Homo sapiens: one gene and its partner. The protein of the gene in region 1 purifies or fractionates together with the protein of each later gene. This does not show direct contact. Each region holds a gene or a part of one and is shown in the gene's direction. Other genes may lie near its edges. The genes, in order: SLC36A1 and DLAT.

Evidence for each region.
Region 2: the proteins of SLC36A1 (region 1) and DLAT purify together in Homo sapiens (affinity purification with mass spectrometry; one large-scale study listed by BioGRID and IntAct). This does not show direct contact.

What each region holds. Positions count from the first base shown.
Region 1 is NC_000005.10:151,457,435-151,461,256, forward strand, and holds part of SLC36A1 (proton-coupled amino acid transporter 1), read left to right. Parts: exon of another isoform or gene 1-1,265; coding exon of another isoform or gene 1,266-1,358; coding exon 1,359-1,501; intron 1,502-3,822. UniProt on the Homo sapiens protein: Electrogenic proton/amino acid symporter with selectivity for small apolar L-amino acids, their D-enantiomers and selected amino acid derivatives such as 4-aminobutanoate/GABA.
Region 2 is NC_000011.10:112,056,221-112,060,042, forward strand, and holds part of DLAT (dihydrolipoyllysine-residue acetyltransferase component of pyruvate dehydrogenase complex, mitochondrial isoform 2 precursor), read left to right. Parts: intron 1-3,682; coding exon 3,683-3,822.

The sequences.
Region 1 (3,822 bases):
TAGTATTCCTGAGTAAATCCACCCAGGGGACACCACTCTCACCACCCTCCCAACACATTGAAAGGACATTTTTTTCTCTCACCATTTTAAAAATGAGCACATCTATAAAAATAAAAAGGAAGAAGAGTTGTGGATGGGAGATGTTGAGACGAGGGCCAGGGTGAGCACCTTTCAGTTTCCTGGTCCTCCTCTGAGCTGCTTTCAGCTACCATTTCTCAGTACTCAGGTTGGCAGCAAGAAAGGAGTCCCAGGGTCAGGGTATAAGAGTTACTGGTGGCCTCCAGAGAGTATAGGATCAGCCTGTGGTCACAGCAGAGAGAAAGAGAACGGCATGTGTGGCTCTGGGATTTGGTGGGAGTTTCAGCAGAATTGGATGATCCAGAGGGGATTTCTGTTTTCTTTTTTTTTGTTGTTTGTTTGTTTTTTTTTTTGAGATGGAGTTTCGCTCTTGTCGCCCAGGCTGGAGTGCAATGGCACGATCTCGGCTCACCACAACCTCCGCCTCCCGGTTTCAAGCGATTCTCCTGCCTCAGCCTCCCGAGTAGCTGGGATTACAGGCATGCACCACCACGCCCGGCTAATTTTGTATTTTTAGTAGAGACGGGGTTTCTCCATGTTACTCAGGCTGGTCTTGAACTCCGGACCTCAGGTGATCCGCCCGCCTTGGCCTCCCAAAGTGCTGGGGTTGCAGGCGTGAGCCACCACACCCAGCCCAGAGAGGATTTCTTGAGTGAAATGTGTTCTCTATTGAAGGCAGAGGAAAAAGAGTATACGATGAGAAATACCCAGATTTCCATCCCCCCAAGAGCTTGTACATATATATATATACGTGTGTATATGTGTATACGTGTATATATATACATACACGTGTATATACGTATATATATATATATATATATGGGATATTTATATATATATATATACACACACGATTGAACTATTGCACAAGGTCCAAGACATTATCTCAGAAAGGAGTAGATAATCCTGACCTAAGGAATAGGGAATGCGGAATTCCAGGAAGCACTTCTCTTTCATTTTCCCCCACTCCTCCCAAGCAGTGCCTCACTTCTGCCTTGTCTAGCTGTACTCCGGAAAATTAAGAAATTTATGAGTGTAGCACCACGTATACCAATGGGAAGGATGGGAGTCAGAAGTCAAGTGAACTCAGCCCGCCTCTGTGTACTTTGCACTTTTCCATTTCCCTTGGTACCAGGCACTTTCATACTTAATCCATAGTGGAGCTGTCACAGTGAGCAACTCTGACAATGACAGCTTCTACCCCAGAGGCCACCCCAAATATGGAGCTAAAGGCTCCAGCTGCAGGAGGTCTTAATGCTGGCCCTGTCCCCCCAGCTGCCATGTCCACGCAGAGACTTCGGAATGAAGACTACCACGACTACAGCTCCACGGACGTGAGCCCTGAGGAGAGCCCGTCGGAAGGCCTCAACAACCTCTCCTCCCCGGGCTCCTACCAGCGCTTTGGTCAAAGCAATAGCACAACGTGAGTAGCTGTTACCTTCTCCTCTCCTGGGTGGGATTCGTGTTCCTAAGCCTCCCTTGGACTTATTTTTCCCCCCAATTTCATCAGTCCTCCACTTTACAGATGAAGGTCAGCAGTGAAGAGATTGGGCGAGTGACTGCGCTGAGATTTGCCTTCCTGGGCTGCCACTCTCTAGGCAGTTTCTTACTCTTTTTTCCTTTCAGCTGTGTTGGCCCCCCAAGGCTGGTGCCAAGTGAGAGCTTGGACTTAAAAAAAGCTTCTACAGAGGACATTCTTTTAATTTAAAAGTGTGTCATCTGTGCTAGAACCCCAAATAATTTCCAAGCATAATCGGAAGCTTCCTTTGCAAAGTCTCCCCCCGAATTCTGCCCCATCACCAAATCAGTATTCATTTGACTGAAGAAGTGGGAAGAGAGAAGAATTAACTTCTGCACTTAAAAAATTCAGGGTTGGTAGGAAAGGAAAGATAGACTTTGCATTCTCCAAAGAGGGCTTAATCTCTTGTCTCCAGAAACTGGGACCCCAGACTCATTTGGGCTGAGTTTGGCCCGCTTCAGGTCTCACTTTCCCCAAATGTAAAGAAAAATTGAGGACTCCACCACAAAGCTATGCTGGCTGTGTGGGGCTCACCACTTGAATTAGAAAATTCAGAGGAAGTTTTGCTACTCCATTGAGTTAGTTTCCCAGCTACTCCTGATTTCAGCAGACCTCTGACTTTTCTCTGTGTCCCAGCATCTCAGCTTTTGCAGTCCTGTTTATTCCTCAAGCTTAGCTATTACCTTTTCTGTGTTTTCTTGTGGACTGAGTGTGACTTACTGAGAGATCCTTCATGTCCTAGACTTATGCCATTCCTGATGACTGCCCAAGCGGACCATGGAAGCTTCTGGGCTCATCACTGGAGAAGCTCCCTCTGCCTGCACTGTCTGCTGGTACAGGGCATTTTCTCTTGCGAACTGGGGTGGAACTAGAAGAATGTCTGTCCACATTCCTGGCCCGTCACCACCACTAGCTGATTTCTATGCCTCAGGCTGGAAGTACTCAACCAGTCCTCTAAGATTCTGTTTCTGTAGCTTATTTCTCAGGGGTATGCTTTTGTAGATTCCCCATTAGCCTGCAGTGGGAGTTAGCTGGTGGTAGATTGCTTAGAGCACAGCTGGCAGCAGTGTGGATCACCCTGCCCCTCTTTCCTCCAACCTTATCAGCATTGGCAGCCCCCATGCAGAAGCATCTCCACACACAGCCAATGGCATGTGATGGCTTCCCTTCAGAGGTCATGCTTGTTATCGTAAGATACTTCTAAGCTTCCTTCTCTGTAGTTTCCTTTGCAGTTTTTGCTCCTTTTTGATCTCAGATATCAACTTGTCTAAGCAATATTTAGCAGATGAGGTCTGGATTTTTATGTTTATAGAGACATCTCTGAAGCTCAAAACCTACCAACTAGCAACTTTAGGATAGTAGCTCATAGGTTTTGGACAAAATTATGTCCTTGTTTCTTGGAAATCGAACAAATCAGAAGATACCTTCCTCAGGCTTGTATTGTGACATTTTCCAGGGTATACTTTGTTCCGAGTTTCCCTTCCTGCCTTGATGTTGTGATACAGTGTAGGTGACCAGGGAAGCCTATCTGTAGTTGATGGCAGGTATTACAGTCCCATCACAGGTGGTACAAGATAAAGTAATTTGCTGGGGCTTAGAGGACTGGTTGAGTACTTCCAGCCTGGGGCATAGGATCCACGCAAGGATTTATATAGAAAACATGCCAGGTATGATTAAGGTAGAGGTTGATTTGGAGGACCTTCTTAACCTAAATTAATATTTTAATATGTCGGAAGTGTTAGAGACAAGTTTTTGAGCTGGGTTCCTTTTATATTTCTGGTTTGCCCCACCCTTTTATCTAGTTTGCCAAGGAACAAAATACATGGAAGTACTTCTACACCTACTGCACATATGCATGCACACACCTGGCTCTTCTAGAAGTCAAGGGCTCAGCAAAAACCCCTAGTTAGGGGGTGCAAATAGGAACCCCAAACACTTCCATGAGTTTCATGGGTTACTTCCTTTTATTTTTTTGAGACAGGGTCTTGCTCTGTTGTCCAGGCTGGAGTGCACTGGCACAATCATGGCTCACTGCAACCTCCATCTCCTGGGCTCAAGTGATCCTCCCACCTTAGTTTCCTAAGTAGCTGAGACTACAGGCATGCTCCTGGCTACTTTTTGTATTTTTTTTTTTTTTTTTGTAGAGATAGGGTTTTGCTATGTTGCCCACTTAGTCTTAAACACCTGGGCTCAAGTGATCCGCCTGCCTCGGCCTCCCAAAGTGC
Region 2 (3,822 bases), on another chromosome or scaffold:
TGCTCTAAGTGTACAATTTCTTGATTTTTGTTAAAGGTGCAGAATTACGCAGTCTTTACCACAATCTAATTTTAGAAATTTTCATCACCCCCAAAAGATCACTCATGCTCATTTATAGTAAATTCTTATTTTCACCTTCAGCCCCTGGGCAATTTGTTATAGTGCTTGAGTCTATAGATTTGTATTTTCTAGACCTTTTATAGAAATGGAGTCATAAAATATGTGGTCTTTTGCATCTACTTTCTTTCACTTAACGAAATGTTTTTGAGACTCATCCATGTTGTAGCATGTATCTGTAGTTTATTCTTTTTTATTGCTGTATAGTGTTTAATCGTATCAATATACCTCTTTATCATTCACCAGTTAACATGTTTTCCAGTTTTTTGCTATTATGAATGATGCTACTATGAGTATTTACATACAGTTATTTGTGTGGACATATATTTTTATTTCTCTTCAGTAGATTCCTAGGAGTGGAATACCTGAGTCATAGGGTAAAATTATGTTTAATTTTTAGAGAAACTTCTACATTATTTTTCAAAGTGGTTGCACCATTTTACCTTCCCACCAATAGTGGATAAGTGTTCCAGTTTCTCTATGTCCTCATCAATATTTGTTACCGTGTGGGTGTGAAGTGAGAACCATCTACTTGTGAGAGTATCTCGCTTTATTGCACTTTGATTTATTGTGCTTTTTTATAAATTGAAGGCTTGTGGCAACCCTCTGTCAAGCAAGTTGATGGCACCATTTTTCCAACAGCATGTGCTCACTTCCTGTCTCTGTGTCACATTTTGGCAATTCCTAGAGTATTTCAAACTTTATTATTGTATCTGTTATGGTGACCTGTGATCAAGGATCTTTGATGTTACCATTGTAATTGTTTCAATGCCCCATGAACCATGCCCATATAAGATGGCAAACTTCATTGATAAATTTTGCATGTGTTCTGACTGGTTGATAGAATTGATAGAATTATCAACCAGCTGTTCCTCTGTCTCTCTCCCTCTCCTTGGGCCTCCCTATTCCATGAGACACAATAAAACTGAAATCAGGCCAATTAGTAACTCTACAATGGCCTCTGAGTGTTTCAGTGAAAGGAAGACTTTCACGTCTCTTACTTTAAATCAAAAGCTAGAAATGATTAAGCTCAATGAGTAAGGCATGTCAAAAGCCAAGATCGGTTGAAAGCTAGGCCTCTTGTGCCAAACAGCCAACTTGTGAATACAAAGAAAAAGCTCTTGAAAGAAATGAAAAGTACTATCCTGGTGAACACACGAATGATAAGAAAGTGAAACAGCCTTGTTGCTGATACGGAGAAAGTTTTGAGTGGTCTAGATAAAAGATTAAACCAGGTACAGCATTCCCTTAAGCCAAAGCTTAATTCAGAGCAAGGCCCTAACTCTCTTCAATTCTTTGAAGGCTGATAGAGGTGAGGAAGCCGCGTAACAGAAGTTTGAGGCTAGCAGAGGTTGGCTCATGAGGTTGAAGGAAAGGAGGCCATAATAACATAAAAGTACAGGGTGAAGCAGCAAATTATTCAGAAGATACAGCTAAGATAATTGATATCCCTCATCAGTCGGCAGCCATCAACATCAAGGCAAGATCTACCAGCAAAAAATTACAATTCACTAAAAGTTCAGGTGATTTTTAGCATATTTTAGCAATAAAGTATTTTTAAATTAAGGTGTATACATTGGTTTTTTGTTAGTCACGATGCTATTGCACTCTTAGTAGACAACAGTGTAGTGTTAAGCATAACTTTTGTATGTACTAGGAGATCAGAAAATTCATGTGACTCGCTTTATTGCAATATTATTTTGGTGGTCTGGAACTGAACCTGGAATATCAAGATATTTCTATACTTAGATGAAGAAATTGAGGTTGTCTGTTAATTCTAACCAAACACCATTCATTTACTTGTTCATACACCCATTCAACATTTATTTAACATGTACTGTTTACTGGATTCAGTGGTGAACAATATAGGGAATACTGTCCTTACTGTCTCAAAGGGAAGATGATTGAACAAGCAATATTGTAATAATTTATTCAAGAAAGCAGTATTTGCTGTGTGATACCTTGGCTACAGTTCTGTGGTAATTAATGAGTCATACACGGTATTTTTATTAGAGCAGGTTCCTGTGTTTGTTTGCAAGTGACAAAATCCTGCTCTAGCCAACTTAGGCAAATTGGGGGATTTGGTACCCACTGATCTTTTTGGAGCTTGTGCCTAGAAAGAGCTGGAGTTCTTTGGAGGCAGAGCTGTGCCTTTGTTTGAAGTCTTAACTTTTTCTCGATTGCAGAACACTAGCAGGGGCCCTTAGGCAGACCCCAAGGAGACCACGGATAAAATCCATGAATCCATGAGCTTGTGAACTTCAGTTGGGGTGGGGGAAGGGGGGGGTGGGGGGGGGGAATCACCTTTTTTTTTTTCTACTAACATTTAGCATTTCTTCCTTTTATAAATGTAGAGAACAGATCAAATGTTAACAGTACTTGTGTCTGGTGACCAATAAAAATCAGTTATTTTCATATCACATTGTAGTTGTATATATCTCAAAATGTTATTTTGTTCATCCCTGCTTCAAAATGATAGCCATTATTAGACCTGCAACAAGATCTTATTATTGAGTGAATACAGAAGCACATTTGTCATAATTTTGCTTTTGAACCGTTTGATAACTGAATTTCAGTATAGTTTCTCTCTTTTTTCTAGTAATTTGAGTATTTTCAGTGTTAAAAAGGTATTCTGAGATAAGATCCAGATGCATAGGGACACATTCTGTAGAAAAGATTGGGACTCCTTGATAACAGAAGATCTGATATTGTGTAAAAAAAAAAAAAAGATTGGGACCCCTTACTTTTACGTTCTTCTGAGGTACCACCACCCATGTATCCTGAGCACTCCTATTTCTTGCTACAATGCAGTTCTTTCCCTTCACTCTTCCTTTCATCTGCTCAAACTACTTGCAGAGACTCAACTGCAGCCAATGTACGTCCACTCAAAATCCAAGGAGTTCTGATTGGTGGGGTTTTCTTTCAGCTGCATTCACGTGTCGGTCAAGGCAGACGGCAGGGGATGTTAGACGATATGTGCGAAACCAACCTACTGCTGCTGACACATTTCTCATTCTTTTTTTTTTTTTTTTTTCTTGGCAGGCGGTGGGGTCAGGGGCAGGGGCAGCGTTGGGGGATGGAGTCTCGCTCTGCTGCCCAGGCTGGAGTGCAGTGGTGTGATCTCAGCTCACTGCAACCTCCACCTCCCAGGTTCAAGTGGTTCTCCTGCCTCAGCCTCCTGAGTAGCTGGCACTACAGCTGTGCACCACCATGCCCAGCTAACTTTTGTATTTTTGGTAGAGACAGAGTTTCGCCATGTTGGCCAGGCTGGTCTCAAACTACTGACTTCAAGTGATCCGCCCACCTCAGCCTCCCAAAGTGTTGGGATTACAGGCATGAGCCACCGTTCCCGGACCTCTCTTTGATTTTTAATAACTACAAGTCAAGGAGAGGGCACAGCAAAATGTAAAAATTAGGATAGACATCTTAATTTTTGTCTTTGGCTGAACAATAACACACATTGGTTCAAAAAATTTTTGAAGTAAATATAAATATTCTTGCTTAACCTGGCACACAGGCTCTTAATAAACAGTTTTTTATTATATTTATTTTTCTTTTTAAACAGAAATCATGTTGTTGATGTCAGTGTTGCGGTCAGTACTCCTGCAGGACTCATCACACCTATTGTGTTTAATGCACATATAAAAGGAGTGGAAACCATTGCTAATGATGTTGTTTCTTTAGCAACCAAAGCAAGAGAGGGTA